Linked DNA regions of Homo sapiens. The protein of the gene in region 2 interacts with the protein of the main gene of each other region in a pairwise test. Each region holds a gene or a part of one and is shown on either strand. Other genes may lie near its edges. The genes, in order: THAP6, ING5, TRIML2 and WASF1.

Region 1 (6,085 bases), on a different chromosome or scaffold from region 2:
GGACTAGTTAATTGGAGGCCTTGATAAAGCACATGTGCTCCAGATGGTGAGATAAAACTTATGAAATTCAGGGGCCTATAAACATCAGTAAAATTTTGGGGGAGAAGTATCCAGTGATCTGCGGCATGCTAAGACATCCCCTCTAAAGTAAGAGACAAGTTATTTACAACCTGTATGTTCCACTATGAAGAAGAAAGCACAATGCCTGACAGGCCTCTTTGGGTTCTAAAGGCAGCATATTTCACACCTAGGAATGCTGCTCTCCTTTATATACTGGGTGACATCATATCTGACAGTTTTGAGTGAGGGCCAATGCAGAAAAGGGCTCTATGATAGGTCCATATTGTGCTGAAAGCTGGCCTGCTACGTGGGTCATCTAACCTTGCAGACCCCATATTAGAGTTATTGGTGGAGGAGAAATTAGAGCAAAACCTCTACGTACGTACTCTTCATTTTTCTCTGCCCATTTTATTGAATAACTCAATGTATAAAACCACATAACACATTACTGGATAAAATGTTTTATTTTTCAAATAAATTATAATAGATTTTCTCTCTCTCAATTATTTCTGTAATAATTTTATCTTTTTATTAAAACTAAATATATATTAAATACATTTCACCTTTTCTCAAATTACAGACTATGGTATAACTGTAATTGTCATTAGCAACCAAAGTCTATTTCCAGAAATTTAAACTTGATATAGAGAAAAATTCCACGTATCAAGCGCTTCGTACCTGACTTGGTGCTGAGGTTGAACTGTTGTATTAATGTGTTCCTGGCTCTAGAGGCCACTCCTAGCTTTTAAAGCAAAGTGGAACCCTTAGGGTCAGGCTTGGCTGCCAGAGAAATTTCTGGAGGGGGATGACTTGGGTTTTGCTTTACACAGGCCAGTTCTTTCCTGGGCTAGGGTGGAATCTCTGGGAACAGAGGACTGAGATACATACTGTGTTTAGGCATTTGTTTGGAGCAGCAGGGAGGACCCTATTTTTAATCTCACATTTCTATCAGTAATTGCTTCCCTATTAGAACAAAGAGAAAATGGGCAGCTCTGGGTCCTTAATGATACCAATATTTTGCACACAGTTATTTATTTCTCAGTTATACTAGGTCCAGTGAAAAAGAAGTGCTGAGTCTACTATGAACACAAGTAGTAAAAGTGACTGTGGCAATTTTGATAGTGGCAGACTGGGATTTTACTCTTGGAAAGGTCTTCCAGGTTTGGTGTATTCTAAGCAGCCAGTAGAGTGCTAGAATTTAGACATACTGTGTTTGGATCTACCCTCTTACTTACTCCATTGTCTTACTTTAATTTATATATTCACAAATAGGGTGAGGGAAAAATAATCTCTATTGAAAACATCTCCATAAAACCTAAGATCATACCCAAACTTTCCATTAGGGTGGCCATTTATGAACTCAAAATTAAGTAACTAAAATAAATAATGGGTAATTAATGAAAGTAGTTTTGTTTTTTTGAGATGGAGTCTTGCTCTGTTGCTCAGGCTGGAGTGCAACGGCGTGATCTTGGCTCACTGCAATCTCCGCCTCCCGGGTTCAAGCAATTCTCCTGCCTCAGTCTCCCAAGTAGCTGGGATTACAGGCACGTGCCACCATGCCCGGCTAATTTTTTTTTGTATTTTTAGCAGAGATGGGGTTTCACCATCTTGGCCAGGCTGGTTTTGAACCCCTGACCTCAAGTGATCTGCCTGCCTTGGCCTCCCAAAGTGCTAGGATTACAGGTATGAGCCACCACCCGGCCTTTTTTTTTTTTAACTACCTTTTTACTACTTTTTTTTCAGATTGTAAAAAGATATGGCCTCAGTGATTTCCTCTTAGCATAACGCTGATCTCGCAGATGTGGGTTAAATCCCATTTAGAGGGAAGGTTTGGAATCCTACATAAAAGTATAACATGCATTAAAACAGAAAATTCTTAAATACAAAAAATTCAAGTGACCATATCTTAACTAATATTAATGTAACAAAAATAAAATTACAATAAACAACTGAGCACAAAATGCAATTCAATTTTTGTTACTACAATGAAATGGCTGATACTCAAATTCTAACTGCTACAACATGGACTTCTGAATGAGGTCCATGTATGTACATGTGCTTCTAAGTAGAGTGTTGCTTTGGCAAATGGTTTTTATTCTAACCCACAGTATTTATGACTCTCAATTTCAGTTGTTTTCGGTAAGGAATTATGACAAAAGCTAAATTTATGAGACTTGGATCAATTAGGAAATAACAAGGAATTATTCTTTTGCATATTCAGTAAGAAGCTATTCTAAAGCTGCTGTTTTAATTACCCGTTTCTCTAAATAAAAGCCTTTGGACAATAATCTACTCCCCTAATTAAAATATTCTAATCCTTTCTCTCCAATTCCTATTTCAACTGGAAGAGCCACAGTTATTAATTTCTAATGGTTTCTTTTGTATTTTGTATTTTTTTAAAATGTCAGCAATACTACTTTACATATAAAATACAAAGCAGTATTAAAAGTATAGAGCTAGTACTGCCATTCAGATTTTAAACATATACCTTTATGACGAAATAGTCATGAAGCAAAGTGTTCAGATCTGTCAGAGCAACCAACCATTTAAAAATCAGATCTACGATCCTTTTTGTCTTTTTAAAGCTATTCTGGTTTACATCAAAGTGCTCCTAGTGAGGAGGAATGATGTACTGTACTGAAAACTGAGACTTCATGAGGGGTCTTCTTAAATTGGCTGTGAACAATTTTAAAAGCCCACAGATCTTCACTATGTGTTATTCTCAGAGTCAATACCACAGGAAGCCTTGTAAAAAGATCCTTTGGTACTACTGATAGCTAAAGCACCTTGGATTGAATCCAAGATGGATATGCATTACAAATGAATTGTGCTTTGTAGTAAAATGCATTTAAAGTAAAATTCAATGTACTTACCATAAAGCACATGTAAGTAAAGGTACTCCTTTGAAGCCAAATATCTGGAGAAGTGTCCAATTCCTTCTACTATAGCTTAATGTGACTAATTTGACATCATTTCTTTAGCTCTGTGAAATTTTCTTGAGATTTTAACATCTTACAATAGTGACCTGGCACTAGTGTAGGTCTATAAAACATAATTGTCACAAGACACAAATACATAATTACCACAAATTTCTGCATATTTTCAAAAAAGTCTTTGGATAACAACTATAATGCATAATGCTCCAGAGAATCCAAAGCAGCACTTTAAATGATGGATATTATTTAGTGATGGTAAATGAGATTTTATAAAAATTTGTACCAATGACAATTTTAGGTGGAACGTAACATGAAATTATTTCATGAAATATAGTCCTGTTCTATGCTCTCCTGACAACAGTCCCAACAGAAAGTGTCCAGTCTATTTGCTGTTTCTTGGCTGATCAGACATTCATCCTTTAATTCCCTGATTGTCTTCCTCAATGATTTCTGAAAACGTTTTTCTCGGTCTAAAACATTCCGTAGACTTTCCTTTGTATCCTCTAGCTCGCCGATCACATGATCTAATTTATGCTTAAGTTTCTTTGGACTGTCCATTACACTGTAGCTATGTTCCTAAAAACATAAACACCAAGTTATTAAATCAGACAGATATGTAGTTGGATAAAAGCTTATAACTAGGTCTAAGCTGTTTCTTCATTTACAATGCCTGGAGAACATTTTTAAGTTGGTGATAGAGGTTTAAGGAACACAGGAAGAAGATGGGGGTAGAAGCAATATTTAGGGTGCTAAGGGCATCCCTCCTTTTACTAAGGCCAGGCATACACAAAGACTGCAGAATATTATGGATGGGAAGCACTTATCTCTATGAATAGCATGACACTTGCAATGACTCTACAGCTTTTGTTCATTCAATGTGGTGCTGCTAAGTTTAATTTTTACCTATCAAACAAATTTAAATTAAGTTTTTAACTGGGTTACTTTATTGGATGGCTATTGCATTTGATAAGGTGTGACAGGAAAAGAGTACTGCAGCAGGTTCTCAGGCTCGGTGTTGGGGATTTAGAGAGGACTCTGGTCTTGGAATTTTCAAGAGACAACTCCTCTTGGTGTTTATTATGGTTATGCTTAAATTTGCTGGGTATGCTTTTATTCCTTTTTCATTTGAGAATAGGGAAAATAACACTGACATAGCTTATAAAGGTACTATAAAATAATTTTGAAAAGCTATTATTTAATATTAAAATTAGTAAAGAAGACTTTTATTTCCAGCCAAGATGAAGTAACAGAGACTGGATTGACCCCTACCTCCAAGAACCAACACAAGGCTAAAAGACAGAAAAAAATAGCTCTTAAGATAATGGATATTTGGCAAGGACAGCAGCTATTGTGGACAGATGGGAAGCAAAGAGGTGAGACCTAAGACTGCTCCAGCTAACTGCCTGAGAGTTTCTCGGCCTCAGGGCAAGGAAGGGAAACCCAGGCAGAGCTTAGCAGACTGAGCTGAGGAGGTAGTGCAAAACATCCAGGGAGACCAAAGTAGCTACAGTTCACAGGACAAAGTACTAGACAGGTGAGAGCTGCACAGAAAAAACTCAAGATCTTCAGAGGCTCCCCTTTGAGTATTCCATGGAGTAAGATCAGCACATGCACATGAGGAAACTACTCAAGGCTGAGGAAAGAACAACCAGAGATTAGGAGTGCCCTGTGCTCACAGGGTATAGCCACTATTCCCACTAGCCAGACTTGAAAATGTCAAGATTCATGGACACTAAGTATGCAAAACAGTCTTGTCAAACAAAGTAAAATCTGAAAGGGTCGAACAGTTTCTAACTAACTGTACTCCAGAACAATGCTCAAGAAAACATGATACAAAAATATCTAGCATCTGGCAAATTAAAACCCAAAATTCATGGCATGCAAAATTTACCAGGCATGCAAATAAGCAGGAAAACATTAGTCATAATAAGAGATAAATCAATCAATGGAAACCAAGCCGGAACTGACACAAATGTTAGAATTAGCAGACAATTAAGAAAGTTATTAAAATTGTATTCTATATATTCAAAAAGTTAAGTACATAAAATATATAAAAAAGACTCTAATAGAATATCTACAGATAACTGATGTGTGAGGTAAAAAAATACACTGGAGAGAATGGCAGTGTATTTTTTGAAGAAGAAAAGATTTCGTGAATGTAAAGTTACAGCAACAGGAACTATCCAGTATGGACTACAGAGAGAAAAGGAGATAGAAAAAAAATAAAGCATCAGTAACATGTTGCACAATTTCAGACAGCCTAATATACACATAATTAGAATTCCTGAAGGAGGGGAAAAATTGGGATAGAAAGAAATATTTGAAGAAATCATGGCCAAAATTTTTCCAAGTTTGATAAAAAGTATAAACTGCTAAATAAAAAAGCTCAACAAATCTTAATTACAAGAAATATGAAGAAAATGAAACCAAGGCATATCATCATCAGATTAGGCAAAAGCAGTAGAAAAAAACAAAAATTATTGTCCAGCACGGTGGCTCACGCCTGGCCCAGCACTTAGGGAGGCCGAGGCAGGGGGATCGCCTGAGCTTAGGAGTTTGAGACCAGCCTGGGCAACATGGAGAAATCTGGTCTCTACAAAAACAAACAAAAATTAGCTTGGCATGGTGGCACATGTCTGTAAGTCCCAGCTACTCAGGAGGCTGAGGTGGAGGGATTGCTTGAGCCTGGGAGGTTGACGCTGCAGTGAGTTGTGAGTGTGCCACTGCACTCTAGCATGGGTGACAGAGGGAAACCCTGTCTCCAAAAATAAATAAATAAAAAATTTAAAAAAAGAAAAATTCTTAAAAGCAAAGAAAAAAAGAAGTATTAGGTACAGAGAATAAAGGTGAGTATGACATTAATTAAATTTTTCATTAGAAATGGTGCATGTAAGAATACAGCAGGGCAACGTCTTAAAAAGTACCAAAAACAACTGCCCCCGCCCCCAAAACTGTTAACCTAGAATTTGATTACCTAGTGAAAATATCTTTCAAAAGTGAAGATTAAACTTTTTAAGCAACAGAAATACTGAAAGAATTCATCACCAGCATAGTTGCACTATAGGAAATGTTAAAGTAAGTCCTGTAGG
Region 2 (7,031 bases):
TGAGACCCTGCCCCGCCCCAGGCCCCCAGCCCTATTGGCCTGGACTAAAACAGAACGAACACCTCCTGGGGAGAACAGAAATTTCCCTCTCCACGCTTCCTTTATATCTAAAGTCAGACAGCTAATAAATCATGAGACATGTACCCTCAGCAGGGAAATAGGACTGATTATGTTTTTTTAAAAGCTGGTTACCAAGGAATGGTGGCACATGCCTGTGATCCCGGCTACTCAAGTGACCCTCCCACCTCAGCCTTCCAAAGTGCTGAGATTACAGGCATGAGCCAAAGCACCCAGCCCTACAATCTCTTAAATGAAAAATGTATTAAAGGAGATTAAAACTAACTTAGGGCCGGGCACAGCAGCTCACGCCTGTAATCCCAGCACATCGGGAGGCCAAAAACAGGCAGATCCACCTGAGGCCAGGAGTTCGAGACCAGCCTGCATAACACGGTGAAACCCTGTCTATACTAAAAATACAAAATTAGCCAGTCATGGTGGCACGTGCCTGTAATTCCAGCTACTTGGGAGGCTGAGGCAGAGAATCGCTTGAACTTGGGAGGCGGAGCTTGCAGTGAGCCAAGATTGTACCAGTGCACTCCAGCCTGGGTGACCAAGCAAGACCGTCTCAAAAAAAAAAAAAAAAAGACAGAAAGAGAAAAGAAGGAAGGAAGGAAGGAAGGGAGGGAGGGAGGAAGGGAGGGAGGGAGGGAAGGAGGAAGGAAGTGAGGGAGGGAGGGAGGAAGGGAGGAAAGAAGAAAGGAAGGAAGGAAAGAAAGAAGGAAAGGGAAGGTGAGAGGCTGAGCTGGGCGGATCACTTGAGGCCAGGAGTTTGAAACCAGCCTGGCCAACAGGCTGAAACCCCGACTCTACTAAAAATACAAAACTTAGCCGGGTGTGGTGACGCTCACCTGTAATCCCAGCTACTTGGAAGGCTGAGGCGGGAGAATGGCTTGAACCCGGGAGGCAGAGGCTGCGGTGAGCGGAGATTGCGCCACCGCACTCCAGCCTGGGCCACAGAGCCTGAACCTGTCTCATAAATAAATAAAGTAATAGAAACAAATCAAACTGAAGTACAGAAAGAAAAAAGCTTGCAGAAAGTAAGCAGAGCCTCGGTGAGCTGTGAGAAAATCTAAGCTAAGGAACGCACAGGGAGCTGGACAGCAGGAAGAGGAGAAAGGAGAGCACAAAAATACTGGAAGAACTGTCTGAAAATTTTCCAAATTCGATGCAAAGTATAAACCAACAGTTCAAAGATGCTCAACAAGTTCCACGCAAAATATACACAAAAAAATCACACCAATACACATCATAACCAAACTGTTAAGAGCCAGTGACAATGAGAAATCTTAAAAGCAAAAAAAAAAAAAGAAACCACCAAAAATAATTATTATCAGTAATTTATCATCAGAATCAATGAAAGACAGAAGAAAATGAGAGAACATCTTTAGCGATAAAAGAAAAAAGGTCAACCTAAAATTCTATACGCAGTGAAATAAAAGCATTTTCAGAGAAACAAAAACAGAGAATTCATCACCATCAGCATACATGTACTGCAAAAAATGTTAAAGTTCTTCAGTAGAGGAGAAATGACAAGACAGAAATTTGCATCCACATAAAGAAATATACGTAAGCAGAATATGTATGGAAAAAAAATTTTTAAAGAAAGAAAATAAATATTAAGAAATAATAGTTGGGCCAGGCGCGGTGGCTCATGCCTGTCATCCTGCCACTTTGGGAGGCTGAGGCGAGAGGGTCACTGGAGGCCAGGAGTTCGAGACCAGCCTGGCCAACATGGCAAAACCCCATCTCTACTAAAAATACAAAAATTAACCAGGTGAGTAGGTGGGTGTAATCTCAGCTACTCAGGAGGCTGAGGCACAAGAATCACTTGAACCTGGGAGGCAGAGGTTGCCGTGAGCTGAGATCGCACCACTGCACTCCAGCCTGGGACACAGAGCAAGACTCTGTCTCAAAAAAAAAAAAAAATGAAGGTTACCAGAAATGGCAACTATATGAGGTAACTATATATGGGGTGACTTTTGTGGTGAGAACACTTAAAATCTACACATTTTTTTGAGACTATATTGTTATTAACTGTAGTCACCATGTTGTAAAACGGATCTTTTGAACTTATTCCTCCTATCTAAATGAAATTCTGTATCCAACGTCTCCCCTGACCACCCCAGCGCCTGACCACCATTCTACTCTCTACTTCTGTGAGTTCAACATCTTTACATTCCACATATATTTTAAGGCGTGTTTCACGTCATCAGTGGTTTGCATCTAAGGTAATAACGTGCTGGGAAGCTCAGATCACAGGCAAAGTGAAGGACAACAGCACAAAGGCAGGAAATGGAAGAACACTTGTGTGGAGCCACACGTTAAACATCAAATAGTGTAATATCTGAAGCTCACTGTGATAACTTAAGGAAACTGAGTGCACACACTAGAACAATCCTTAAAATACAGGGGCCGGGGCAGTGGCTCACGCCTGTAATCCTAGCACTTTGGGAGGCCGAGGTGGGTGGATCACTTGGGGTCAGGGGTTCGAGACCAGCCTGGCCAAAATGGTGAAAACCTGTCTCTACTAAAAATACAAAAACATTAGCCGGGTGTGGTGGCGCACACCTATAATCCCAGCTACTGCGGAGGCTGAGGCATGAGAATCGCTTGAACCTGGGAAGCAGAGGTTGTAGTGAGCCAAGATCATGCCATTGCAAATTGTACTCCAGCCTGGGCAACAGTGCAAGACTCCGTCTCAAAAAAAAAAAAAAAAAAAAAAGCATGGCTAATAAGACAAGAGTGGGGAAAAAAACGGAATACTAAAAAATACCTGATTAGTCCAAAAGAAGACAGCAAAGGAGCAGAAGGAACAAACAGAAAACTAATAGCAAGATGGTGAACCTAAATCCCACCATATCATTAATTATGTTAAATATGAACAGACCAAATATTGCAATGAAGGCCGGGTGCGGTGGCTCATGCCTGTAATCCCAGCACTTTACAGGGAGGGGAGGCCAAGGTGGGCAGATCATTTGAGGTCAGGAGTTCGAGACCAGCCTGCCCAGCATGGTGAAATCCTGTCTCTGTTAAAAATACAAAAATTAGCTGGCTTTCAAAGGATTTCAATTATGTAATGTTCTTTGACCACAACAGAAGTCAACTAAAAAATTAAAATTAGAAAGGTATCTGAAAAATCCCAAATTATTTGGAAATTGAGACACATACTTCTACATAAGTTATAGGGCAAAGAAGTAGCATGAAAAAAAAAATTCTAGGTCAGGTGCGGTGGCTCACGCCTGTAATCCCAGTATGTTGGGAGGCCAAGGCAGGCAGATCACCTGAGGTCAGGAGTTCAAGACCAGCCTGGCCAACATGGTGAAACCCTGTCTCTACTAAAAATACAAAAAAAAATTAGCCAGGCATGGTGATACGTGCCTGTAATCCCAGCTACCCAGGAGGCTGAGGCAAGAGAATTGCTTGAACCTGGGAGGTGGAGGTTGCAGTGAGCCAAGATCACACCACTGCACTCAAGCCTGGGCAACAGAGTGAGGCTCCGTCTCACCAAAAAAAAAAAAAAAAAAAAAAAAATTCTATTCCAGCACTTTGGGAGGCCAACGTGGGTGGATCACTTGAGCTCAGGAGTTTAAGACCACCCTGGGCAACATGGTGAAACTCCATCTCTACCAAAAATATAAAAAATTAGCCAGGCATGGTGGCATGCACTTGTGGTCCCAGCTACTTGGGAGGCCGAAGTGGGAGGATCTCTTGAGCCCAGGAGGTGGAGGCTGCAGTGAGCCAGGATCATGCCACTACACTCCAGCCTGGGTGACAGAGTGAGACCTCATCTCAAAAAACAAGAAAAACATTCTAAAATATTTTAAATAGGTAAACGAAATAAAAATTTAAAACAATATCAAAATTATATCAAAATCATAATATATCAAAATTTGTGGAGTGCAACAAAGATAATAATTAGAACAAGGAAGATATAAAAATCAATTATGCAAGCTACTTCCACCTTAAAAAGCTAGAATAGTATAGGCAAAGTAAACCTGAGTAGAAAACAGGAAATAGAGAGTAGAAACAAATGCAATAGCAAACAAAAAAATAGAGAAAACAATAAAAATAATGAAACTAAAAGCTAGTTCTCTAAAAAGATCAAGACGGCCAGACGCAGTGGCTCACGCCTGTAATCTCAACACACGGAGAGGTTGAGGCAGGCGGACTGCTTGAGCCCAGATGTTTGAGACCAGCCTGGGCAACATGATGAAACCCTGTCTCTACAAAAAATTAGCCAGGCATAGTGGCGCATGTCTGTGGTCCCAGCTACTCGGGAGCTGAGGTGGGAGAATCACTTGAGCCTGGGGACAGGGAGGTGGAGGCTGCAGTGAGCCATGTGCATGCCACTGCACTCCAGCCTAGGTGACACAGCTAGACCCTGCCCTCAGGGAAAAAAAAAAAAGGATCAAGACAAAATGAGAGAAACATAAATTACCAGTATCAGGACTGAAAGAGGGGTCATCATAACAGACACATCAGAACCATAATAATGCAAAATTATTAACAACCTGATGTCAAAAAAATCTGACAACTTACATGAAACAAATTTCTTGAAAGACACAGATTTTTTCCAAAACTGACTCGAGAAGAAATAGAAAGCCTGAATACTTCCATAACTTTAAAGGAACTGAATGCAACATCAAACTGTACACTTAGAATAACATTTTATTGTATGTAAATTATTCCTTAATAAAGTTAATTTAAAAGGTTAGAAAAACAACAGGACTAAACTATAATGTATAGTGTCTAGGAATGCACTATAAAACTATTAAAGAAACAAGGAAATAAACACTATAGAAATCTGGATCATGTTTATTTGGGGGCAGGAGGAGTTTATGATTTTAACAGGGCATATGGAAGGCCTTCCAGCAGCAGTTAATCACTGACTAGGTGCTACTTACAAAGATCTTCACTTTACGGAAATTAATTAAACCATGTTTGTTCTGTGCGGTTTTCTGTATCTGTGCACTACTTTACAATACGAGAATGTTGGGATTTTTTTTTTTTTTTTGAGACGGAGTTTTGCTCTGTCACCCAGGCTGGGGTGCAGTGGTGTGATCTTGACTCACTGCAACCTCCACTTCCCGGGTTCAAACAATCTCCCTGCGTCAGCCTCCCGAGTAGCTGGGATTACAGGCAGCTGCCAACTACTCAGCTAAGTATTTTGCATTTTTGGTAGAGACGGGGTTTCACCATATTGGTCAGGCTGGTCTTGAACTCCTGACCTCAGGTGATTAACCTGCCTTGGCCTCCCAAAGTGCTGCGATTACAGGCATGAGCCACCTCGCCCGGCCAAAAGGCTAAGCACTAGCTAAAAAACTGAAAATTGGGGCTGGGCACAGTGGCTCACGCCTGTAATCCCAGCACTTTGGGAGGCCAAGGCAGGTGGATCACGAGGTCAGGAGATCAAGACTATCCTGACTAACAAGGTGAAACCTCATCTCTACAAAAAATAAAAAAAAATTGGCTGGGTGTGGTGGCATGCACCTGTAGTCCCAGCTACTTGGGAGGCTCAGGCAGGAGAACTGCTTGAACCTGGGAGGCAGAGGTTGCAGTGAGCTGAGATCGCGCCACCACACTCCAGCCTGAGGGACAGAGCAAGACTCCATCTCAAAAAAAAAAAAAAAAAAAAACTGAAAATTGGGTCGGGTGTGATGGCTCATGCCTGTAATCCCAGCACTTTGGGAGGCCGAGGCAGGTGGATCACCTGAGGTCAGGAGTTCGAGACCAGCCTGGCTAACATGGTGAAATCCCATCTCTACTAAAAATACAAAAACTTAGCCGGGCATGGTGGTGCGCACTTGTAGTTGCAGCTATCCAGGAGGGTGAGGCAGGAGAATCGCTTGAACCTGGGAGGCAGAGGTTGCAGTGAGCCGAGATGGCGCCATTGCACTCCAGCTTGGGCAACAAGAGCGAAACCCCATCTCAAAAAAAAAAAAAAAGAAAATTGTCCCTTTTTTGTCAAGAAGAACTCTTTTTTTCTCTTTATTTTTTTTTTTTGAGACAGAGTCTCATGCTGTGGCCCAGGCTGGAATGTAGTGGTGCGATCGTGGCTCATGATCCTCCCAGCTCAGCTTTCCCTAGTAGCTGGGACTACAGCCCACACCACCACCCTCAGCTAATTTTTTCTATTTTTTGTAGAGATGGGGGACTCACTTGGTTGCCCAGACTGGTCTCAGATTCCTGGGCTCAAGTGATCCTCCCGCCTTGGCCTCCCAAAGTGCGGGAATTATAGGCATGAGCTACCGTGCCCAAAACTTACACTCTTTGACCCTCCCTCTGTGAGATCATCTCCACAGAGGCTTCGTGGCATTTCAGCATTTTCTCTTTAGTCTAAATGTCACTCCTCTGAGGTAATGCTACGATCTCTTTGGAGGGTATACAACACCTTTGGCAGGGAGGGTGTCAGTGGGAGAATGCTTTAAATAAAGTATCTCAAAAAACTTCAAGTTAAATGACATGTCTATTTAATAAATGTGGCCACATAATTAACAATGAATATATGCACACTATATGTTGACACATAAAATAACTGACAGATATACAGAAATCTAGCTACTTAAAGAGTGGTCTACATTGGCCTCTGTCAACAACACGTTGCTCACCATCCTCCTGTCCCTAGTGGGGCAGCACACACTGTGGCTAAGAGGACAGGCACTGGAGTCAGACTCCAGGTGCAGCCCAGCCGCACCACAGCAGCCCTAAAGCCTGGGCAGGTCCCTGCGACACTGAAAATGCCCCTGACAACGGCACCCCCTCAAAGGCTGCGGTGAGGACAGGCTGACGACAGGCGCGCAGCGTAAGAATCAGAATACCACCCGGCACACGGGGTGCACTTCACTCGGGTCAGCTTCCATCAGTGTTCCTACATCCGGGATACAGGCTATGGGTATTCGTTCTTTTGGGAAAAAGAGGGGAAAGCCTCTTACCCTCCTTTGTGCTTCTTTTTCTTTGGTGTGTCTTCCTCT
Region 3 (7,031 bases), on a different chromosome or scaffold from region 2:
CGCGACCTGGGAGACCGTCTCCTGGCCGGTCACCTGGAGGGCGTGTAGCTCCGGGGCGCGGACCAAGAACTGCATGTTGGTGACTGAACCGCGGTTCCGGCTGCCGCCCCCGCGAAGATGGAGTCAAAGAGGAAGGAGCGAGGGCGCTCACGGCCAGACCGCGGGCAGCGCGTCACGTCACTCCTGAAATTTTATTTCGGAAACAATTATTGAGAAGAGTGGCTTTGGCTTCACTGTTTTGCAAATCTCTTTAATTGATGGCTTCTTAGAAGAGCCGTTTTCGGCCGGGCGCGGTGGCTCACGCCTGGAATCCCAGCACTTTGGGAGGCCGAGGCGGGTGGATCACGAGGTCAGGAGATCGAGACCATCCTGGCTAACACGGTGAAACCCCGTCTCTACTACAAAAATACAAAAAATTAGCCGGGCGAGGTGGCGGGCGCCTGAAGTCCCAGCTACTCGGGAGGCTGAGGCAGGAGAATGGCGGGAACCCGGGAGGCGGAGCTTGCAGGGAGCCGAGATCGCGCCACCGCACTCCAGCCTGGGTGACAGAGCGAGACTCCGTCTCAAAAAAAAAAAAAGAGGAGCTGTTTTCCCTTATTTGCTTCCCCATTCCTTCTGTTGCATGTGTTTTGTCCCAGCTGTAGTCCCAGCTACTCCGGAAGCTGAGGTGGGAGGATCGCTGGAGCCTGGGAGTTCCAGAGGCTGCAGTGAGCCGTGGTCACGCCACTGTACTCTAGACTGGGCAACAGAGCAAGACCCTGTCTCTCAAAGGGAAAGTATTTTAATAACTTTTTCAGATACTTGTGGTTTTTTTCTGTAATTCTATCAACGAACCTCTTTCGCACTCTGTTACCTCACTCTAGTCCTGAAGTTCCTTCAGTAATTAGCGCGATGCCTTTAGAGCACTGTTTTCCCCTGAATGACTCGTAAGTGAGTGCTGTTCCTTGTAATTAATTTTCAGCCTATTGCTCAAGATTGTCAGAAGACCTGAGGGAAACCCGCTGGTCTTAGAACACTGGCCTAACTCTGTCTTTTCCCCAAGCAGGCAGCTGCCAGAAATTTGTTGGATTTGAGGAGTCCAGAGCGCCGACCCGCTCTGTCTGCGTGGACTTATTTCCTTGGATCTTCGTGGACTCTGAAGTTGCCAAGTGTGTGTGCCTGCTCCAGAAAACAAAGGAAGCCACCATTTTTTCTCATTCACAGTGCAGGGAGATACCTCAGTAGAAGCATACAGTCCAGTCTTCAACTAGGGACCCCTACCAGGATGTCCAAAAGGCTCAGCCCTCAGTTACAGCACAACATCACAGAAGATGCCTATTGTGAAACACACCTGGAACCAACACGGCTGTTCTGTGATGTTGACCAAATCACACTCTGCAGCAAATGCTTCCAGTCCCAGGAGCACAAACATCACATGGTGTGTGGGATACAAGAGGCTGCTGAGAATTACAGGGTAAGAGTCACTCACGCAAATCCCAAAACACTCTGGCCAACTCCTATATGGATGAAATGGACAGACATTCTGGTCCTCCAAAACCATTACCTTAGTTGATGTTTATTACAGAATATTAGATAAGTTCGTTGAACCTTCAACCTAAAGGCTAAGAAAATATATACTCAGAGTTGTTGGCTGTTTAAGGTCAGGAATCCAACTGTTCTAAATCAATGATCTCACCTGGAATTCTGTGCTTTCTCTATAGAAGTTATTCCAGGAAATATTGAACACATCGAGGGAGAAACTTGAAGCAGCTAAAAGCATATTGACTGATGAGCAAGAAAGAATGGCGATGATTCAGGTCAGTGAGTGCTTATCTTGATTCTTGGGGGGAAATTACCAGTAATGTTGTTAGAAAATAGTGTATCATAAACAAAGTCAAAAGACAAATCACAAAGCAGGAAAAATGTGAAATCTATAGGAAGGAAAAGTGCTAATATCTTAATGTATAAAAAGCTCTTTAAAGTCAGTAAGAAGCTGGGTGTGGTGGCTCACGCCTGTAATCCCAGCACTTTGGGAAGCTGAGGAGGGCGGATCACTTGAGGTCAGGAGTTTGAGACCAGCCTGGCCAACATGGTGAAACCCCATCTCTACTAAAAATACAAAAATTAGCTGGGTGTGGTTGCACGAGCCTGTAATCCCAGCTACTCGGGAGGCTGAGGCAGGAGAATCGCTTGAACTGGGAGGCAGAGGTTGCAGTGAGCCGAGATCACACTACTGGACTCCAGCCTAGGCCACAGAGCAAGACTCCATCTCAAAAAAAATAAAAATAAAAAAAGTCAGTAAGGAAAAGACTAGAAATTTAATTTTAAAAAACGATCAAATAAGAGTTTGCAGAAAAGAAAGTAAATATATTTTAAATACATTGAAAGAATTTGAACTTTGTTCGTGGTAAGAGAAATACAAATTATATGGTGAGTAAAATGGCATTTGCAATGCTATTTGCAATGATCAAAAAGATTAACGACACCGTTTATAACAATGACATAGGAGAATGAGCATCTCTTGTACTTCTGGTTGCCACATAAATTCTAAAACCCTTTAAAGAGCAATTTGAGAATAGCTATTCAGATTTGAGGGTTCACCACCTGTTAGGCATATTTCACTTCTAATTTCAGCCTGTATCTTCATACTTAATCCTATTCTGTGCAAGGTATCCCCGATTCTGGGTCTTTTCTCTCCCTCAATTTTTAAAGGAAATAAATGCCTACTTAGGGAAGATAGTGGAGGAGAATTGCCTGGCTAGGTAAGGATTTTTCAACCGATCCCCCTTCTTTTTCAGTTCCAAGTACCATGTGTTCAGCAAATACTGAGATCCCACTGTTTGCCAGGGACTATGCAAGGTGCTAGGGGCTCACCAATGGAAAACAAAAAAAACCAGCTCTGCTTTCGTGGAACTTGCATTCTAGTGGATATAAACAAAATAAGTTTAATATATAGTATGTTACCTGGGAAGTGTTTAAAAAAATTTTTTTTAAGTGAGAAAGGAAGCAATGGAGTGAGCTTGTAAATAAAGTGATCAGAACCTTGTTATTCAGAAGGTGGCACTGAAGGAGGTGGGGGATTGGGCCATGCAGTTTTCTTGGGGAGGAATATTCTAGGCAGAGGAAAGGCCTGGAGGCTGCCGTGTATGTGGCTGGAGCTGTGTAAGGAAACGGGGGCTGTAGGTGATGAGATCAGAAGAAGGCGGTCAGTCATTTAGGGTGGCAGCCTTCAATGAAATACAAGCTTCAAAACCACTGGAAGGTTTCGAACAGAAGGCTGACATGATTTAACTTCCATTTTCATAGAAACACGCTAGCTGCCAAATGAAAATAGACATTAAGATAGTAAAAGCAGGCTGGTCGTGGTGGCTCATGCCTGTAATCCCAGCACTTTGGGAGGCCGAGGCGGGCGGATCACGAGGTCAGGAGATCGAGACCATCCTGGCTAACACGGTGAAACCCCGTCTCTACTAAAAAATCGGGTGTGGTGGCAGGTGCCTGTAGTCCCAGCTACTCAGGTGACTGAGGCAGGAGAATGGCATGAACTTTGGAGGCGGAGCTTGCAGTGAGCCGAGATGGCGCCACTGCACTCCAGCCTGGGCGACAGAGCGAGACTCCGTCTCAAAAAAAAAAAAAAAAAAAAAAAAACCAAGAGAGTAAAAGCAGAGGTGGAGAGACGTGCAAAGGGACTTGCAATAATTAGGGAGAGATGATGGTGAGCTGGGGGACAGGTAGAGCAGTGGTGAGAAGTAGTCAGGTTCTTGATAAATCTTGATTTCATTGAATCTTTTTTTTTTTTTTTTTGAGATGAAGTTTCGTTCTTGTTACCCAGGCTAGAGTTCAGTGACGCGATCTCGGCTCACTGCAACCTCCGCCTCCCGGGTTCAAGCAATTCTCCTGCCTTAGTCTCCCAGGTAGCTGACATTACAGGGGCCCGTCATCATGCCTGGCTAATTTTTTTATTTTTAGTAGAGACGGGGTTTCACCATGTTGGTCAGGCTGGTCTCGAACTGCTGACCCCATGATCCACCTGCCTTGGCCTCCCAAAGTGCTGGGATTACAGACGTGAGCCCGGACAATTTCACTGAATCTTAAATAGCTTAATAGAGATGCTATTTAAGCATCTCTAAGATGACTACTTTCAAATATATATCCCTAGCTCAGATTTCCAAATGGTAGTAGGCTTCATGTCCAATTTCCTACTTACTATCTTTACTTGGATGTCTAATTGACTAATCAAATTCATCACATCCCGAGCTAACGCACACTCCTCACTTCTGGAATCCAGCCTTTCCATAGATTCTCTCTATATATTTTGGTAATTCCATTCTTCCAGTTGCTTAGTCTAAAATTTTTGGTGTCTTTCGTCCATGACTCCTTTTTTCCCCACAACTCTTACCCAAGCATCAGCAAATCCCATTGGCCCTTTTCCAATGTCCTGGTCTCCTCCTCTGTTTGACAGAGGCTATAGCTTCCTTAGTTTTTCCTTATTGATGAACATTTCTTTTTTTTTTTTTTTTTTTTAAGATGGAGTCTCCCTCTGTCGCCCAGGCTGGAGTGCGGTGGCGCCATCTCGGCTCACTGCAAGCTCCACCTCCCGGGTTCACGCCATTCTCCTGCCTCAGCCTCCCGAGTAGCTGGGACTACAGGCGCCCGCCACCAAGCCCGGCTAATTTTTTGTATTTTTAGTAGAGACGGGGTTTCACCGTGTTAGCCAGGATGGTCTCGATCTCCTGACCTCGTGATCCGCCTGCCTCGGCCTCCCAAAGTGCTGGGATTACAGGCGTGAACCACCGCGCCCAGCCAATTCATTGATGAACATTTCTTCGTCTGCATTTTATGTTCTAAAATTGTGTTGATGTCTTGGCTGATGTTGACTCAAATTCTATTTCTCCTTTGGGTTTATTCCTTTTCTTCTGTACTTTACATTTCCTCGTCTTTTTTTGTTTGTTTGTTTTTTTGAGACAGAGTCTAGCTCTGTTGCCAGGCTGGAGTGCAGTGGCGTAATCTCTGCTCACTGCAACCTCCACCTCCCAGGTTCAAGCGATTCTCCTGCCTTAGCCTTCCGAGTAGCTGGGATTATGGGTGCTCCCCACCACGCCCAGCTAATTTTTGTATTTTTAGTAGAGATGGGGTTTCACCATGCTGGCCAGTATGGTCTCGATCTCCTGACCTCGTGATCCACCCACTTTGGCCTCCCAAAGTGCTGGGATTGCAGGCGTGAGCCACTGCGCCCAGCCTTCCTTGTCTTTATATTGGGGTTAGAGATGGAAAGAATACATTGTGGTCAGTGTAAGATATATATATCTATATATAGATATAGATATCTATCTATTATGACGTGTGTGTGTGTTGTTAATCTATCATGTTTAACCTGAAGTCTATCATGTCTATATGAGGAAGGAAGAGGAACAAAATTTTAAAAAGATGATTGAGTCTGAGTATAGTATGAGACTCCGGTTGTTGAATGAAGAGTGTGAGCAGAATCTCCAGAGACAGCAGGAATGCATATCTGACTTGAACCTGAGAGAAACCCTTCTGAATCAAGCGATCAAGCTTGCCACCGAGCTAGAGGAGATGTTCCAGGAAATGCTACAGGTGAGATATTGAAAACAACATCCTCATATTTGAGAAATGAGAAAAAGAAGAGCTAAACATTATGTCAATTCCAAAATAACATAGCCAGTGACAACCACACATGTATTAAATGAATTATATACCTACCTGGCAACTCCATTTCTATGAATTTATCTTGACATGCATATAAAAAGACATAAATAAAGCACAATATACCTATAAATATATTTGTACACATATTACTGTATTATGCTTCAAACATACTTACACACATAGAAAAAGACACCTGGGTAAGGCAACACTGAAACTGAGTTTCAGTTTAGAGCCATGGTTTAGAATTCACCTTTCTTTTTTTTGAGACAGAGTCTGGCTCTGTCTCCAGGCTGGAGTGCAGTGGCGCAATCTCAGCTCACTGCAAGCTTCGCCTCCCGGGTTCACGCCATTCTCCTGCCTCAGCCTCCCAAGTAGCTGGGATTACAGGTGCCCGCCACTACGCCCGGCTAATTTTTTGTATATTTAGTAGAGACGGGGTTTCACCGTGTTAGCCAGGATGGTCTCGATCTCCTGACCTCATGATCCACCCGCCTCAGCCTCCCAAAGTGCTGGGATTACAGGCGTGAGCCACCGCGCCCGGCCTAGAATTCACCTTTGAAGCCGGATGAATGGAGTTCCTATCTGAGCCAGCTGTTTACTGGCTCCTGGGTGGCCTACGACCTGCTGCTTAACCTTTGACTTGGTTCCTTTAGCTGTAAACTGGATATAACAGTGACCCCTAATTTATAAAATTATTGTGAGATTTGAGTGAGATAATCTGCTAAAGCTTATTAAATCGTGTCTTGTTCATGTTAAGCAGTTGATGAGTAGCAGATGTTACAATTATAACATTCATAGCAAGAGGTTAGAAACACCCTGTATTTGTCAATAGAAGACTCACAAAATGTGCTCCATACATACATGGAAGAATACTCTTCAGCATGTTAAGATGATGTCATGGCTCTGTGTATATGAATAAGGAATGTTCTCCAAGAATAAAGTAAGTTGTCAGATTAGTAATCAAATATAATAAACTATCACTTATGTTTATGTTTTTTCCCCCTAAATAACATACTCAAGTTGCGTATGTGACTACGCAGTATATGTAAAGTATACTTGGAAGGATAAAAAGAAAATTGATATCAGTAACGTAATTATTTATTTCTTATTAGTTAATCTATATACCTTAATTTTAATTGATTTCAAGTTAATGAAAAAATAGGGAACCTTCTGAACAAACAGCCACAGAAAAAACATGAAATGTTTTAGGTGCATATTAATGTGAGTAAGGGCTGCGTGCACACACATCTGTATTGGCTTAAACATACATAACAGGGGGCAAAGAATCAACTGTCTCTTGAGAGGAATCCTGCTTCAGCAGAAGAATATCATGGCCTTGCCTAATTATGTCTGTTCCTGGGGTAGCAGGCAGAAAAGCAGGG
Region 4 (7,031 bases), on a different chromosome or scaffold from region 2:
CACATGTAAGTGGACTATTACAGTTAAACGATTTTGTTCAAGGGTCAACTGTAATTCCAAATAAATTCCAAATTCAACAGGTCACCAGTTGTAATATTACATTGTTCATTATTTATCTCTGATCACAAAGTATCTGAGGGCAAATATCATGCTAGATTTCTACTGCTTGCAAAGATAAAAACTCAGTGCTCTGGATGTTAAATTTTATGATATATGTGTCATTTTTGCTTAGGTAAATATGCTGAAGATATATTTGGAGAATTATTCAATGAAGCACATAGTTTTTCCTTCAGAGTCAACTCATTGCAAGAACGTGTGGACCGTTTATCTGTTAGTGTTACACAGCTTGATCCAAAGGAAGAAGAATGTAAGCTTATTAATATTGTATTTTCTTCTACGTATATATTTTAAGTTAGATGAGATGAATGATATACTTAACAGTATTAATCATGAATTTATTACAGATCATACCCATGTCCTTTGGTGTACATATTGTAATAAATCAGTGAATTATCTAAAAATGCCATCAGTATGATTCTCCGGGCTTTTCTTTTCTACTCTGTTTTAAATCTCTTCTTTTTGTACACTAAACAGCTCCTAATTTTTTTGCATAAAGAAGTCATTTTAACCAGACATTTTCCTCCATTCTCTTCATTATCTTTCTCTTTTCATTTCTCCCTTATAATTTATTTGTATACTTTTGTCTTAGAAATAAAAATTATTAGAAAATTACCTGAAATCTTTAGGTTTGATTCTACAAGAATGTAACTGGTTTTTTTTTTGTTTTTTTTTTTTTTTGAGACAGACACTCTGTCACTAGGCTGGAGTGCAGTGGCGCAATCTCGGCTCACTGCAACCTCCACCTCCCAGGTTCAAGCAATTCTCCTGCCTCAGCCTCCTGAGTAGCTGGGATTACAGGTGTCTGCCACCACGCCTGGCTAATTTTTTTATTTTTAGTAGAGATGGGGTTTCACCATGTTGGTCCGGCTGGTCTCGAACTCCTGACCTTGTGATCTGCCCACCTCGGCCTCCCAAAGTGTTGGGATTATAGGCATGAGCCACTACACCTGGCTATGTAACTGCTTTTAATATGCTTTTGTATGTGCATATTGCTAAAGTCTTATTAGTTATTTAACTGAATGCAACTTCCTACTTTAAATGAACATTTCAAAAACAAATTGCCAGTATGTAGGGTGTAAACATTCTATACCAAGATATTAAATCAGGAATAATCAGATAGGCTAAAATAATTGTAGAAACTTCGGTGGTAAAATCATGTTTTATGCCTTGATAGAATACATTGAATGCCGACGTTTCCCAAATGCATCTTTTTGTTTGTTTCACAAAAAGAAATGCAATACTAAGAACATAATTTGCACTTACCTACCACAGAGAATTGTTTAATGGAATTTCTTACACTCTCTTCAAAATATTTTTGTTGCATTAAATAGTATAAACACAAATTATATGATAGATCTAATTTTTAGTATAAATGCAAATTATATAATAGATCTAAACTTTAACAATAAAAATACTAAAGGATGTCAGTGGAAAGAACAAAAATATAATGTAATGATAGATGTCTTAGTGATGGAACCAGCTACTTTTGAAATAATCCAATGTGTAAATAAGGAGAGGCAAATACTTGGCATACTAGATTTGTACCACTTGTAAAATGTAAACTCAGAGCTCTGGATACAAGAAGAAAAGGAAATAATACTTAAAAAATAGCTTTATTAAGATATATTTCACAACCTACGTATACCTTGCAGTTCACCCATTTAAAGTTGAAGTGTACAATTCAGTGTTTTTTAGTATATTCAAGTTATGCAACCGTCACCACAATCAATTTTAGAGTATTTGTATCACTCCAGAAAGAAGCCCTGTACTCATTAGCAGTCACTCTGTTTCCCCTTCAGCTCAACCCCTAGCAATCACTGATCTTTCTGTCTGTATGGATTTGCCTCTATGGATTTGTCTGTATGGATCTGTCTGTATGGATATTTCATATGAATGAATAGTACAGTATGTGGTCTTTTGTGACTGGCTTCTTTTAGCATAATGTTTTCAAGGTTCATTCATATAGCATGTATTTATATCTCCCTGATGGCTAATGATGTTGAGTATGTTTTCATGTGCTTACAGGCCATTTGAATATCTCCTTTGGAGAAATGTCTATTTAATTCCTTAGCCCATTTATAATTTGTATTATTCGTGTTTTTATTTTTGACTTGTTGGAATTCTGTGTATATTCTGGATCTAAATCCTTTATCAAATATATGATTTGCAAATATTTTCTCCCCTTCTTTAGGTTGTCTTTCTTGGTGGTATCCTTTGAAACATGTGCATGTATCAATACATTAATTACACCTCATGGAATTCTTGAAATAAAATCATTGTTAGTGGTGAAAAATATTTTATGGTCATGCTTTCAAATACATAATTTATAGCCAAAATTTGTTTTTCAGATAACTCAACTGCTTATCACTTAAATATAAATTTATGCCATCAAATAATAGAGAAATACACAGGCAGTTCTCATATGTAACAGAAATAAAAATCAACATTTAGTTTCAAAATATTGTTACATTTTAACAAATGTCTTAGAGCCACCATTAAACTTGAAAGTGAAAATACAGATAACAGTAAATAAATTAAGATGTTTGTGTTAAAAAACAAATTTTAATATGTCAACAGCTATACTGTCAGAATTATACCTAGTTTCCTTTAAAATTTTGTGGAGCAGTGGGGGAAGAATTCAGAATCTAAAAGCTGAACTACTTAATTTGAAATTGTTTTGGAGAGGTTGTATTGAAGGAGTTTTCAGTTATTTAACCTAGGTTTTTTAATTCAGTGGGAATTAAAAAAAAAACATCATGTGTACAGTACTAAATAGCACAGTGTGGTATCAGTTTTTTTAACCGTTTTGTAGTAACTAAAAACTATCAATTTTGAAAATATTTTTTAAATGAATTTTAAACAAAGACTTGTACAATTATATTTAAGTCAATTATGTTTATAAGCATTATGCTAATTTATTGCTTTATAATTCTATTTTATTAATATCAGATGTTATTGTTGGCAAGTGGAAGGAGCTTCACCACAATAGTCTGTTAATAATAAGACAAACGATAAATGAGAGGAGTTGAAGATAGAAAAGTACATCATGCTTATTAGTTTACATGTTTCTTACATCCTTTACCAAGGAAGTTTGGCGAGATTAAACACTAGGTTTCATCTTAATTACATACTTATTGATTAATAAGTGGGGCAGGAGAGTGGCAAGAATTGATCCACTTTGACTGCAGAAAACACAACCCACTTCTGGCAGGAGCCTGAGAACAGCGTGTGGTATTGTGGCAAAAAGATTAGCCTCAAAGGTAGACAGATCTGACTTTTCTGTTCTGGCTCTGCTGTTTATTAACTGTTTAACCTCAGGTCAGTTATATACTATTTCCTAGCCTTAGCTTTCTTATATTTCACAATGGAGTAATAATTCCTGTCTTACTGAATTGTAAAGATTAAATGAAATGAAATTTAGTGAAACCATCTAGCACATATAGTATGTACTCATTAAATACTGTATCTCCAGTGCCACTTTTTAGTGATAGTGGGGAAAAACTTTTTGCTTCTCTGAATTTTATTTTAGTATTTATAAGTGTGTTACAGGTCATGCAGCAGTGGAATTGCTAGAAATGGAATTATGGTGCCACCATTGCAGAGCCAGCCTATTGTACCTTCTGTGCCATTGGTCCCATGTTCATGTTGAGTGAATTTACTTGAGGGGATGACAGGAATATTATTTTAAGGAGAAGGATAACTTAAGAATTGTTGGCTGGATGTGGTGGCTCACACCTGTAATCCCATCACTTTGGGAGGCTGAGGCGGGCAGATCATGAGGTCAGGAGTTCAAGACCAGCCTGGCCAACATAGTGAACCCTCATCTCTACTAAAAATTTAAAAAAAAAAAAAAATTAGTCGGCCATGGTGGCAGGTGCCTGTAGTCCCAGCTACTTGGGAAGCTGAGGCAGGAGAATTGCTTGAACCCGGGAGGAAGAGGTTGCAGTGAGCCGAGATCGTGCCACTGCACTCCAGCCTGGGTGACACAGCGAGACTCTGTCTCAAAAAAAAAAAAAAAAAGAATTGTTAGGATTGTTATACTGACCTTGCTATGTTATAGGGCATTTGTCTGTATACTTAAGGCCATATTAAATATCAAGAAATTACCTTATTTTTTAATATCGGGATATCAGTGTAAGAATTAAGAATGCAGCATTTTTGTATGTTTTTTATTTTAACATGCTGCACAGTTCAAAATAAATGAAGTTGTTTTTAAATCATGTATGTGATGGGGCTGTGCTAGTGACTGGGAATACTAATGTACAAGATAGTCTGAGTCTTCAAGAGCTTATAGTTAGGTAGAAATCCTTATAGTACAGATAAAAGATAAGTGAAAAAGAGAATAATATAGATCACCTAATACTTAAAAGTATTTCCTTTACAGTAAAGTTTGTTTTAACTTGAGAGTACACATACAATATTTATAGTATATGTAGCATAGAGGTTAACAGCGTGTTTAGCCCACAGTGCCACTAATAAGTAATTCCTTTCAGAGTTACTGGTGTAAGCTAAAAAAAGGAATAAAGGGAGATGGAAAAGAAGATTATAGGAGAAGAGAACCTAAGTTGGTGGGGGCCCATGATGGCAGGTAGAAGAAAGAAAAAGGTATATTTGGTTGAAATGTAGATATGTTTCAGGTGTCATTAGGGCCCTCTGAGCCTTCAAAATCAAAGGTTAATTAAAACCTATCTGATTGGGAAAATTAGGCGCAGAATGATATGGGTAAATATAATGATAGAACATTTAAAATATGGTTTCTGATTCATAAGCCACTAAGGTCACAACCTCTTGAGCCATGCTGACTTTTAGACAAATAAAGTATGTGAATTTGCCCTTATGTTAAATCATCTTAGTAAAATAAAATAAAATGAATTCTTGATTTTTGTTTTAGTGTCTTTGCAAGATATAACAATGAGGAAAGCTTTCCGAAGTTCTACAATTCAAGACCAGCAGCTTTTCGATCGCAAGACTTTGCCTATTCCATTACAGGAGACGTACGATGTTTGTGAACAGCCTCCACCTCTCAATATACTCACTCCTTATAGGTAGGTAGGTTAATAAATAGTAGCCCTATTATTTATCTCAGACTTCAGATTGAAATGCTAAATCCCCAAACATTCTTTATTTCATTGGGGTTCTAGCCAACACAGAGAGCCCTCTCTGTCCACCACCTTTGGAAAACCTTTGCTTTTATTCATTGGATGAATTCTTAAGATTGTGGCATACAAAAGACAAGACCTATTTAAAAGAGTTGTTTTTACAAGTTTAGAAAAGCCACTGGTAAACTTATTAATGTAAAGAGATAAGGAGTTATTATTGTCCTTTTAATTTAATTTTTAATCAAATGGAAAAAGCTCAAAATTCTGTCCTACTAACAAAATAAACATAATTTTTGCTTGTTTTGTCTACTCTTTTTTTTTTTTTTTTTTTTTTTTGAGGCGGAGTCTCACTTTGTCACCTAGGCTTACTGCAAGCTCTGCCTCCCAGGTTCATGTCATTTTCCTGCCTCAGCCTACCGAGTAGCTGGGACTACAGGCGCCTGCCACCAAGCCCGGCTAAATTTTTATATTTTTAGTAGAGATGGGGTTTCACTGTATTAGCCAGGATGGTCTCGATCTGACCTCGTGATCCACCCGCCTTGGCCTCTCAAAGTGCTGGGATTACAGGCGTGAGCCACTGCGCCCGGCCTGTTTCGTCTACTCTTGATTTGATTTGTATACATTAACTTCTTACATAATGAATAGGTAGTACCTTTATAAAATGCTTTTTACCACTTAGAATAAAATCTGGAATTATTTAGCCTTTCTTTGAAGTTCTTTCACATGGTTTGTTAAATGGGTAATGTACAACACAACCTGAATAAAATAGTATTCAGAGAGTTATTTGAAATTGTAAGTCAGTGTGCAGATAATTAGATATAAATGTGACTGTTAGAATGACTATTACATGATATCTTTTGGATTTAGTAAGATAATAAATAAATCATAGTATTGGCAGAAACTGCAAAATTTCTGTCTTCTAGATGATGTTACTGTCTTTTCAGGCTTTTATCTTTGGCAGAGCTATTTGTAATTATTGGAATTGCCCAAAGGACTTTTTAGAAAATTTGGGATTCAGCAGAAATTAGGGATGAAAATTGCCCAGCTATACTTTAAATTGTTAGTACTAACTTGGAAAAGCATCTGCTTTACCACTTTTCTTTGTTTCCTCATATTTGTGAGAAATTTTCTATTGGTGCAATATTCAGTTTTATTTTGGCACTATTTTAACATGCTGTATTTTATTAATGTAAGAGGATAAACATTTTAGTGAAATTATTTCTATTCTGATTGCCTAAGTCTTACTAATGTGTGTTTTAATTGATATTTTATATTTCAGAGATGATGGTAAAGAAGGTCTGAAGTTTTATACCAATCCTTCGTATTTCTTTGATCTATGGAAAGAAAAAATGTTGCAAGATACAGAGGATAAGAGGAAGGAAAAGAGGAAGCAGAAGGTATTACAAGAGATTAAAAAATTGAGGTTAATTTTTGTATATTTGTGTTTTGTTGCATATATTGAACTTCATTAATCTTGTATTTTGACAGTTTTATTTTATTGGGTCCATATAGTTAAATACTGAAGTCTTTATAACTCCACAGAAAGAACACAGTCTGATGGGGAGCAGATGAGCAATTAGATTATTAGAGTAGGGCATAATAAGTGCCATAGCAGAGGTATGCATAAAGGGTTTAGATAACACAAAATAGCATCTGCTTTAGCTAGCAGGCAGGGTAAACCCTTCCCACAAAGCTTATAATGAATCTTGAAGAACAGATAGGAGTTAGGTGTACCAAGGAAGAGAGGAACATTTTGGTAAGGAGCAATGGAATCTTGTACAGATATTGGTAACGTAGATTAAGCTAGTATTT

Evidence for each region.
Region 1: the proteins of ING5 (region 2) and THAP6 interact in binary tests that used the Homo sapiens proteins (3 or more experiments, as listed by UniProt).
Region 3: the proteins of ING5 (region 2) and TRIML2 interact in binary tests that used the Homo sapiens proteins (3 or more experiments, as listed by UniProt).
Region 4: the proteins of ING5 (region 2) and WASF1 interact in binary tests that used the Homo sapiens proteins (3 or more experiments, as listed by UniProt).

The regions. Positions count from the first base shown.
Region 1 is NC_000004.12:75,524,447-75,530,531, reverse strand, and holds the end of THAP6 (THAP domain-containing protein 6), read right to left. Parts: intron 3,573-6,085; coding exon 3,318-3,572; 3' UTR 3,103-3,317; coding exon of another isoform or gene 3,073-3,102; 3' UTR 506-3,072; downstream 1-505.
Region 2 is NC_000002.12:241,712,033-241,719,063, reverse strand, and holds part of ING5 (inhibitor of growth protein 5), read right to left. Parts: coding exon 6,993-7,031; intron 1-6,992. UniProt on the Homo sapiens protein: Component of the HBO1 complex, which specifically mediates acetylation of histone H3 at 'Lys-14' (H3K14ac) and, to a lower extent, acetylation of histone H4. Component of the MOZ/MORF complex which has a histone H3 acetyltransferase activity.
Region 3 is NC_000004.12:188,099,602-188,106,632, reverse strand, and holds part of TRIML2 (probable E3 ubiquitin-protein ligase TRIML2), read left to right. Parts: intron 1-622; exon of another isoform or gene 623-1,042; 5' UTR 1,043-1,264; coding exon 1,265-1,453; intron 1,454-1,700; coding exon 1,701-1,796; intron 1,797-5,359; exon of another isoform or gene 5,360-5,373; coding exon of another isoform or gene 5,374-5,382; coding exon 5,383-5,577; intron 5,578-7,031.
Region 4 is NC_000006.12:110,106,662-110,113,692, reverse strand, and holds part of WASF1 (actin-binding protein WASF1), read left to right. Parts: intron 1-232; coding exon 233-367; intron 368-5,011; coding exon 5,012-5,165; intron 5,166-6,498; coding exon 6,499-6,616; intron 6,617-7,031.